Regions from separate parts of the Homo sapiens genome. Here region 1 is linked to region 2. Evidence: fine-mapped expression QTL. A gene starts in region 2. The other region holds a variant in brackets. All regions are shown on one strand. Distances are between the middles of the regions.

Region 1 (5,371 bases), 110 kb after region 2:
GTTGGCCAGGCTGTTCTTGAACTCCTGACCTCAAGTGATCCACCTCCTTGGCTTCCCAGAGTGCTGGGATTACAGGTGTGAGCCACCACGCCTGGCCAGAATCTGCATTTTAACAAGATATGATGTGTATGCTCATTAAAGTGAGAAATGCTGGCTTAGCACATTTTCTAGAATGTGATTTTTTGATGATTCCAGTGAAACTGACATTTTTAACAGGAAAAGAAAAAGAAATCAAGGTCGTGGGCTGGCCATATTCTCGCCATGTTCTTTTGCACTGGCCCTCAGTTCAAGCCTTGCGTTAGAATCTCCATGGACTTTCCTCAAACAGCATGAGTCTAGGCCTCAGATCTGATTTGAGGGTTTCAGAGAAGGGGGTCTGTCATCTATGAATTTTGAAGTATCTCTCCAGGTTAAGCTCCCAGTTAAGATTCCCTGATCAGACAGTACAGGGTACTTAGCTGCCTCATACCAAGTTAATTTTTTAAATTGCAAAATTTCTTGAGATATAATATCGGATAAGAAGTGATCCTTGGCTGGGCTTGGTGGCCCATGCCTATAATCACAGTACTTCCGGAGACCAAGGCTGGAGGATTGCTTGAGGCCAGGAATTTGAGACTAGCCTGGGCAATGTAGTGAGACCCCTGTCTCTACAAAACAAACAAACAAAAAAGCTGGGCATGGTGGCACACACTTGTAGTCCTAGCTACTCGGGAGGCTGGAGGCCCAGGAGTTTGAGGCTGGAGGGAGCTATGATCATGCCTCTGCACTCCAGCCAGGGTGACAAAGCAAGACACTGTCTCATGAAAAAAAAAGAAAGAAAAAGGTGACCCTTGGCTGTTTTTCAGAAGCGCAGGGGAAAAGGGGTCATATTTGGAACCTGGATTCTTCTCCATGGCCTCCAAACCTGGAGGAGTGTGGTCCCTCTGGAAGTGTCCAGTTGTGGCATTTCCCTGGTACTTGGAGGACCCAAGGAACTGCTCATTCCACCATCACACCCTGTCCTGCACACACCCCTGCTCAAACTCTGGCCACCAACCCAGGCACAGCTCACAGTCCAGGCTTGCTCAATTCCTCTGCCTCCTCAGACAAGAATGGCTGGAAAAAGTGACAGGGCAGGGTTTCTTGGAAAGCAATCTGGCCTGCATCAGCATTAATGATTAAAACGTGTCCTCATGTGGCAATTCCCCAACTGAGAGCCCATTCCTAAGCTATTTTAACTCATCAGTTCAGAAATTCTAGAGTCCCTGTCCTTAGTTTTTGAGGTCTGGATGCTTTTTTTTCCAGAGGATCCAATCGAGACACAATTGACTAGAAGGCTTCAGAAGCCACAGAAAATACCTACCTACCTATGGCCGGGCGCAGTGGCTCACGCCTGTAATCCCAGCATTTTGGGAGGCCGAGGCGGGCAGATCACAAGGTCAGGAGATCGAGACCATCCTGGCTAACACAGTAAAACCCCATCTCTACTAAAAATACAAAAAAATTAGCTGGGCTTGGTGGCGGGCGCCTGTAGTCCCAGCTACTTGGGAGGCTGAGGCAGGAGAATGGTGTGAACCCGGGAGGCGGAGCTTGCAATGAGCCGACATCGCACTACCGCACTCCAGCCTGGGTGACAGAGACAGATTCTGTCTCAAAAAAAAAAAAAAAAATCCACCTGCCTATTATCTATCTGTCTATCTCATTATCTACTTATCATCTATCTACCTATCCATCCATCTATCTGTCATCCAACTATCTATCCATCTATATACCTATCATCTATCTATTATCTATTTATCCATCTATCTATATACCTATCATCCGTCCATCCATCATCTATTTATCTATCCATCTATCTATATACTTATCATCCATGCATCTATCATCTATCAATCATCTATCATCTATCTATCCATCTATCTAGATACCTATCTTCCGTCTATCATCTATCCATCTACCTATATACCTATTATTTATCATCTATCTATTATCTATTTATCCTTCTATCTATATACCTATCATTCATCCATCCTCTACCTGTCCATCTAGTTATATAGCTATTATCTTTTTTTTTTTTTTGAGACAAAGTCTCGCTCTTATCCCCCATGCTGGAGTGCAATGGCACGATCTCAGTTCACTGCAACCTTCGCCTCCCAGGTTCAAGTGATTCTCCTGCCTCAGTCTCCTGAGTAGCTGGGATTTCAGGCATGCACCACCATGCCTGGCTAATTTTTGTATTTTTAGTAGAGACGGGGTTTCATCATGTTGGCCAGGCTGGTCTTGAACTCCTGACCTCAGGTGATCCACCCGCCTTCCGGCCTCCCAAAGTGCTAGAATTACAGGTGTGAGCCACTGCCCCCAGCC[A/ATT]TTTTTTTTTTTTTTTGAGATGGAGTTTCACTTTTGTTGCCCAGGGGCAGGAGTGCAATGGTGTCATCTTGGCTTACCACAACCTCTGCCTCCTGGGTTCAAGGTATTCTCCTGCCTCAGCCTCCCGAGTAGCTGGGATTACAGGCATGTACCTCCATGCCCAGCTAATTTTGTATTTTTAGTAGAGATGGAGTTTCTCCATGTTGGTCAGGCTGGTCTCAAACTCCCGACCTCAGGTGATCTGCCCTCCTCTGCCTCCCAAAGTGCTGAGATTACAGGCATGAGCCACTGCGCCTGGCGATTTCACACTTCTGATCTCCGGAGCTGTGGGAGAATAAGTTTCTGTTGTGCCAAGTCACCCAGTTTGTGGTCATCTGTTATGACAGTCTGGGAAACCAATACACCTCCAGCAGCTCACGGCCAGTCCACCTAGGACTGTGTGTGTATCCTGTGGGCATCATGCAAACCACCCCCACTCCCATTCCACCTTGACTGCCAGCCTAGGGTTGTGTCCAACAGCACAGCAGATATTTGCAGGGAGCAGAGCAACAGGCCAGGGACCGGTGGAAGGGCCTGGCTAGTGGGGCCAGGCCAGGCCCAGGTGTCTGGAACCTTGCAGATTTGCTGCACCCTGGAAATATCCTGGAGATAATATTTACTCTAATGTAATTTACTCTCAAATACTGTACTTCTGCCTTTGGTGCTTTCTCCCCTCTACCTCCTGACCAGGGATCACTAGAGGCCATTGGGGAGTGAGGAGGGAAAGAGCCTTCCTTTTGCCTCTTGCAAACTGGCCTCTCTCCAGGGCATGATCCCAGCAAAGAGCCAGCCCCATTGTGGTAGCCCAGAAGTGCCTGGTGGGCGTTGAAGGGGAGTGGGGTGTCCACCACCCACCCCTTGGTGAGCTGCATGAAGGCTCCCGGCGAGGCATCCCAAATGCCTTCCCTGCTCTCTGCACAGATTCTTGTCCTGGTTGCTTTTCCTTCTCTGCCCAGCCTGGCTCTGCCACCTCCAGCGCCTCCCAGCCTGGGCACCAGCCAGCTGCACTTTCCTTGAATGACTGGCAAGTACAACAGGACCAGGCTGGAATCATCGTCAGATGGGGCACAGGATATTTCCACAGTCATGAAGTATCTCCCAACAGATTACTTATTTATCACAAAAGAAAAACTAACTTTGCAGGGGAGAAAACTGGTGAATTTCTCTTTAACCAAATGATCAATACGTCCCACTATTGGAACAAACAGACCTCATGGGCTCCTGAAACGACTGACACCCGGGAAAGTTACAACACACTTCTGGGGCACATAACTTGTGTACTTCTAGAATGAAAGCCAGAAAGAGAGAGGAAATGTTCCAGATTAAAGGAGACTAAAGTGGCACGACAGCTAACTGCAACACATCTTGCTATAAAGGACATAATTGAAACAATCAGGGAAATTGCACTATGGACTGTATAGTAGATAACAGTGTCTGTGTCATGGCGATGTTAAATTTCCTTCATTTGATCATTGTATAAGAGAATGTTCTTTTTTTTTTTTTTTTTTTTTTTTGAGAGACAGTCTTGTTCTGTCCCTTAGGCTGGAGTGCAGTTGCTCGATCTCAGCTCCCTGCAACCTCTGCTTCTCAGGTTCAAGCAATTCTCCTGCCTGAGCCTCACAAGTAGCTGGGATTACAGGTGCCCACAACCGTACTGGCTAATTTTTGTATTTTTTAGTAGAGATGGGGTTTCACCATGTTGGCAAGGCTGGTCTCAAACTCCTGACCTCAGGTAATCCTCGTGCCTTAGCCTCCCAAAGTGCTGGGGTTACAGGCATGAGCCACCAAGCCTGGCCAAGAATGTTCTCATTTTTAGGAGACACCAATGAAGTATTTAGGAGTAAAGGGACAGAGGACGGTGTCTGTAATTTCAAATGATTCAATAACATTAAACATAATAACCTATCTGTATATATAGAGAGATTAAGCAAATGAGGCAAATGTTAATTGGTGAATCAACAGTTGGACACTTGGTGAATTGTATGGATATTGGAGTTCATGGTATTCTCACAATTTTTTTCTATGTTTAAATTTTTTTCAAAATAAGGTTTTAAATAAAAACAAGTCTGGGTGCCATGGCTCATGCCTGTAATCTCAGCACTTTGAGAGGCCAAGGCAGGAGGATCCCTTGAGCTCAGGAGTTTGAGAACAGCCTGGGCAACATAGTGAAACCCGGTCTCTATTAAAAAAATTTTCCCAAGTAGCTGGGATTTATAGGCACATGCCACCATGCCTGGCTAATTTTTGTATTTTTAGTAGAGACAGGGTTTCACCACGTTGGCCAGGCTCGTCTCGAACTCCAGACCTCAGGTGATCCACCCTCCTCAGGCTCCCAAAGTGTTGGGATTACAGGCGTGAGCCACCACACCCAGTCTAAATTTTTTTTTAAAAAGCCAGGTGTGGTGGCATGTGCCTGTAGTCCCAGCTACTCTAGAGGCTAAGGTGGGAGGATTGCTTGAGCCCAGGAGGTGGAGGCTGCAGTGAACCAAGACTACACCACCACACTCCAGCCTGGACAACAGAGTGAGACCCAGTCCCAAAAAAAAAAAAAAAAGTAAAAAACAAGGCTGGGCACGGTGGCTCACGCCTATACTCCCAGCACTTTGGGAGGCCGAGGCAAGTGGATCACCTGAGGTCAGGGTTTCCAGAGTAGCCTGGCCAACATGGTGAAACCTGGTCTCTACTAAAAGTACAAATATTAGCCAGGCATGGTTGTGTACACTTGTAATCCCAGCTACTTGGGAGGCTAAGGCAGGAGAATCGCTTGAACCCAGGAGGCGGAGGTTGGTTAGCCGAGATAGCACCACCGCACTTCCTCCTGGGTAACAGAACAAGAATCTGTCTCAAAAAAAAAAAAAAGTAAAAAGTAAAAAACAAACACGAACCATAGGGCTTTTTGTCTATAGGTAACAGAGATATAGAATAAAGTGAACTGGGCCGGGCGCGGTGGCTCACGTCTGTAATCCCAGCACTTTGGGAGGCCGAGGCA
Region 2 (5,371 bases):
AGGGAAGGGCATCCCAGGCACAGGGAAGAGCATTTAGGAAGGCTTGAAACAGTCAGGTGCATTCTGGGAACTCCAAGTAATTCCACTCTTGAGTTGAGTGAGGGCTAAACACCTTCAAATCACAAAACATTCCAGCCACTGGTCTCTTCTTCTCCCTCCATTCCATCCTCAATACTATAGCTAGATTTATCTTCCTTCCTTCCTTTCTTTCTTTTTTAACATGGGGTTTCAGCCGGGCGCAGTGGCTCACCCCTGTATCCCAGCACTTTGGGAGGCTGAGGCGGGCAGATCACCTGAGGTCAGGAGTTCAAGAACAGCCTGGCCAACATGGAGAGACCCCATCTCTACTAAAAATATAAAATTAGCCAGGCGTGGTGGTGCATGCCTGTAACCCCAGCTACTTGGAAGGCTGAGGCAGGAGAATCGCTTGAACCTGGGAGGCAGAGGTTGCAGTGAGCTGGGACCGTGCCATTGCACTCTAGCCTGGGCAATAAGAGCGAAACTCCATCTCAAAAAAATAAATAAAAATAAAATAAAATAAAATAAATTTGGCTCCTCTGATTTTAAAATCGATCGGGGTTTCCTATGACCTATAGGACCAAGAACAAACTCCCTCTCTTGACATTGAAGACTCTTCACAGCCTTCTCCCAAACTCCTTCCACCTCTCCTCCCTACCTTTTGTTATAGTTACAGCCACTTGGATGATTTCCTGTTCTTAAAGCAGGCCAGTCACATTTTTTGTCCAGACTTCTCCCTCTGCCTGGAATGTTCTCCCCTTCTTCCCTGGGCAAATTCCCCCCATCTTCCAAGACCCAATGCAGAAGACAGGTTCATTAGAAGCCCCTTCAGGGTACTTCCAGTGCCTAGAATCCAGCCTGACATTTTGGTTGAATAATTAATTAATCAGATCAAGGACCTCTTCCCTGAGTACCCAACATAGCCCCCCTCCCCAACGCCTGTGCTCCCTGCACACCTCCTCCATGCTATGTTGGAACTTCTTGAAGTCAGGCTTCATTTCTTTTGTTTCGTTTCTTTCTTTGTTTTCTCTTCTCTTTTTCTTTTTCTTTCTTTCTTTCTTTTTTTTTTTTTTTTTTCGAGACAAGAGTCTCACTGTCGCCCAGGCTGCAGTGCAGTGGTGCCGTCTCAGCTCACTGCAGCCTCCACCTCCCTGGTTCAAGTGATTCTCCTGCCTCAGCTGTCGGAGTAGCTGGGACTACAGGCACCCACCACCACACCCGGCTAATAGAGACAAGGTTTCACCATGTCAGCCAGGCTCATCTCGAATTCCTGACCTCAGGTGATCCGCCCGCCTCAGCCTCTCAAAGTGCTGGGATTAAAGGCGTAAGCCACTGTGCCCGGCTGCGTTTCTTTTTTCTTTTCTTTTCTTTCTTTCTTTCTTTCTTTCTTTTTTTTTTTTTTTTTTTTTTTGAGACAGAATCTTGCTCTGTCACCCAGGCTGGAGTGCAATGGCACCATCTCAGCTCACTGCAATCTCCGCCTCCCGGGTTCAAGAGATTCTCCTGCCTCAGCCTCCGGAGTCGCTGGGATTGCAGGCACCCGCCACCGTGCCCGGCTAATTTTTGTATTCTTAGTAGAGACGGGGTTTCACCACCTTGGCCAGGCTGGTCTCAAACTCCTGACCTCGTGATCCACCCGCCTCGGCCTTCCAAAGTGCTGGGATTACAGGCGTGAGCCACCGCGCCCGGCCTCCGGCCGCGTTTCTTTTCTTTTTTAGAGGAGTCAGGCTGGAGTGCCGTGGCACAATAGCTCACTGCAGCTTCGAACTCCTGGGCTCAAGTGCTCCTCCCGCCTCAGCCTCCTGAGTAGCTAGGACTGCAGGCGTGCACCACCACGCCCGGCTTTTTTTTTATTATTATTAATTTTTTTGTAGAGACGGGATCTTGTTGTATTGCCCAGGCTGGTCTCCAACTCGTAGCCTCAAGCGATCCTCCCACCTCGGCCTCCCAAAGTGCTGGGATTACAGCTGTGAGCCACCGCGCCTGGCACAGGCTTCATTTCTGATGGTCCTTCCTTTTTCCTTGATGCCTTTCTCTGTACCTGGCACATAGAGGTGCCTGGTACGTGTTTGTTGAATGAATGAATGAATGAGTGAATGAGCGAACATGCCATTTCACCTTATATATCTTGTGAACCTGCCAGGCCCGGGCCTGATGTCATAGCCTCTACCCCTGGCCCGAGTCTCCAGTCCCCTGCGTGTCTGCTGACCACAGCACGAACGCCAGCGCACTACCCTCCTCAACCCCAGCCCAGGCCCCTTCCCCGTCGGGGTCCCCCCAACCCTTTCCCCGCCCGCTTCCCCGCCCCGGGGCCGCTTAGCCTCCAGCTCAGCGGGAGGTATCCCCGCCCACGGCCAGGATTGGAGGATGGAGGCAACGCCCACCCCGCCGGGCGGCCTCCTATTGGCGCGGCCGTCGCCAGGGGTGGGGACAGGACCGGCGGCTGCTGACGCCATCCCGGCCAGAAAAGCCCTGGCCAGTGGCGGGCGCGACACTATCCGTGCGGCCAGGCGGAGGTGAGTGCGCGGCGGCCGGATGGGCGGGACGGGCGTGGAGGACGCCGAGCACCGTGGCGCGCGCTCACGTCCGCGTCCCCAAGGGCTGCGCTCCCTCAAGCGCAGTGCCCAGAACTCGGAGCCAGCCCGGCCCGGGGGACCCTGCTGGCCAAGGAGGTCGTCAGTCCGGTCTTGTCTTCCAGACCCGGAGGACCGAAGCTTCCGGACGACGAGGAACCGCCCAACATGGCCTCGGAGGTGAGTGGGACCTCGGGGACTCCGGTCCTCCTAGCCTCCAAAGGAGAGAGTGGGGGCGCCAGACCTGCCTCGGGCCACCCTGCTGGGAATCGCCCTCCAGGAAGCAATTTTGAAAATTACCTAGGAAGCCTGCACCCCCAGCCCTCCCGGGCGCATCATCTGGAGCCCAGCAGTCACCTTTACCAGGACTCACCAGTATCCGCAGGCAGCCCTTGTGGCAAACCCACCAACCCACACTACTAGGGGTAGAGTGGCTCTGCCCTCACCTCACAGTGATGCCTGCCTGGCCAGGAAAAGTGGCTCCCAAGCCTTCAGCCTTCCAACTCTTCCTTCCTTCTTACCACGTGTCCTCCTGTCAGGTCCCACCCCACACCACATCCCTTCTCCTGCTAGAGCAATTGTCCCTGTTTATAGAATAAAGCTCAGCCCCTAAGTGTTCTTGTCCTTGACTGTGGCATGTGGAAAGAGCCAGGAAAAAGGGGACGTCGCCTCGTGGCTCCAGCAACCCTGGTGCCTGGTCCCTTCCTGTCTCACTGGACCCTGCCTCTTAGGGTCAGTGGCTCCTGGCCTCTCCTCCTGACCACTGAGATGCTGGATTCCCAGGCAGAGGTTTTCCTTCCTTGGGCCATAGTTGATTTATCTGGCAATGGGGGTAATAATAGCTGTCGGCCTCACTCTGTAAGGCACTAGATTATGAGGCCATTGCTTTGGACCCTTCAGGTGAGAGGGGCTGTTCGCCTGATGCTTGATGAAGGGAACTCCGGGAAGCAGGAGGTCTGGGTTCCAGGCCCTTTTGGCCTTCATTAGCTAGCAATTCACTTCCTCTTTCTCAATGCCCTGCAAGCTCAGTGCCCTGCAAGCTTCTGGGTCATGGCAGGGGGGTAGGGCCTGGACTTTGGAGCCAAACAGACTTGGTTTCTGTACCAGTCACTTGAGCCCTTTAAACCTCTTTCCTCATTTGTGAAATAGGGGTAATATTGCCCACCTCATAAAAGGCCGTAATAACATATGTGAAATCCCTAGCACAGGGCTGAGCAACAGTAGGTGCTCAATAAATGGTGGCTAACCACAACAATACTGATATTTCTACTTTGGGAGGCCGAGGCGGGAGGACTGCTGAAGCCCAGGAATTCCAGACCAGCCAGGGCAATGTAATGAGACCCTGTCTCTACAAAAAGATTTTGAAAATTACCCAGGTGTGGTGGCGTACACCTGTAGTCTCACAGGAGGCGGAGGCATGAGGATTGCTTGAGCCCAGGAGTTTGAGACTGCAGTGAGCATGATCTCACCACTGCACTCCAGCCCAGGCAACAGAGTGAGATCCAGTTTCAAAAAAATAAAAATAAAAAAACCTGGCAGGCATGGTGGCTCACACCTGTAATCCCAGCACTTTGGGAGGTCGAGGTGGGCAGATCACCTGAGGTCAGGAGTTTGAGACCAGCCTGGCCAACATGGTGAAACCCCGTCTCTACTAAAAATGCAAAAATTAGCTGGGTGTAGTGGTGGGTGCCTGTAGTCCCAGCTATTCGGGAGGCTGAGGCAGGAGAATCGCTTGAACTCGGGAGGCGGAGGTTGCAGTGAGCTGAGATCGCACCACTGCACTCCAGCCTGGGCGACAAAGCAAGACTCCACCTCAAAAAAAGAAAAAAAACCCACAAGTCCCAAAACCAAAACTGGTATTTCCCATGTACATTCGACCTTAACTGTTGCTCATTCAACCCAGCCCAACTCAGTGCCCCATCCCCTGGCCCTGAAGAGACCATTCTGGCCCAGATGTGTCCTGGCTTGGAGTAGCACCTTCTGCTACCACACTAGGCCTCCACTCTCCTCAGTGCCCAAGGGGAGGCACCTCACTCTGATCTCCCTGTGGGGTCCTCTTATGCCTGCCAGTAAGGATAGGAGTTTGGTTCTAGAGCAGAGTGGTCTGGCTTCCAACAAGCCCAGTGTTCTAGGTGACCTCAGGTTGCCCCAGGCCTTCCTGTAGGTTGGCACTAATTGGTTTGGCTGCAGCTCCACTTATTAAGTAGTTATTTTTATTACTAACAACCTAGGCAGGGTGGCCCAGGAGCCCGCTGGGGGAGGCGGTGCCAGGCTCCTGGCTGAGGGGCAGGCTGGCCCCAATTCTGACTGGCTGGCTCCAGTGATCAGGACCAGGGCCCCACGTGGTGCTTTGCTGGAGATCTAGGCTTGGTGGGGCAGCTGTGGGGTAAGGGGCAGGACCAGCTCAAAGATGGGGTGGGGGCGGAGGCTGCCTCTGCAGGGCAGAGTCCTTTGGCAGTCGGGACTGTTGGGCATAGAGGAGTCAGCTCACAGCTCAGGGCCAGAGCACTGGAGAGGTCTCTGGGGTGCATACAGGAACCAGGAGTGGAGCTGAAGCATGTCCTATCCCCTGCCAGCCCTCCCTTAGTAACAGCTGGCATTTCTCGAGTCCTTCCTGAGCACCAGGCACCGTGTTATGTATGCAATTTGCAAATATTATCTGATTAAATGCTCACAATAAGGCTATCAGAGAGGTACTATTATTATCCTTATCTTATTATTATTATTATTATTATTTTTAAGAAGGAGTCTTGCTCTGTCGCCCAAGCTGGAGTACAATG

Direction of the effects. Alleles are on the strand shown, and positions count from the first base shown. SD is a standard deviation of normalised expression in the study named.
With allele A in place of ATT in region 1, the expression in NK cells of the gene that starts at base 2,497 in region 2 is higher (moderate effect, 0.56 SD a copy in Gilchrist 2021).

The links. PIP is the estimated chance that this variant, and not a neighbour inherited with it, causes the effect. A credible set is the group of variants that fine-mapping cannot tell apart.
Region 1: its variant is the best candidate, but not a certain one, in a credible set for the expression of ASL in NK cells (Gilchrist 2021, PIP 0.77).

The regions. Positions count from the first base shown.
Region 1 is chr7:66,187,029-66,192,399 of GRCh38, forward strand. No RefSeq gene overlaps it. Among named protein-coding and RNA genes, the nearest start is that of TPST1, 16 kb to the right of the region's middle. The variant A/ATT (reference allele first, on the strand shown) is at 2,344.
Region 2 is chr7:66,073,323-66,078,693 of GRCh38, forward strand. ASL (argininosuccinate lyase) reads left to right here and starts at 2,497. Exons shown (of 17, transcript NM_000048.4): 1 at 2,497-2,534; 2 at 2,717-2,771. The coding sequence starts at 2,760. RefSeq lists a silencer at 2,138-2,667 and an enhancer at 2,768-3,047.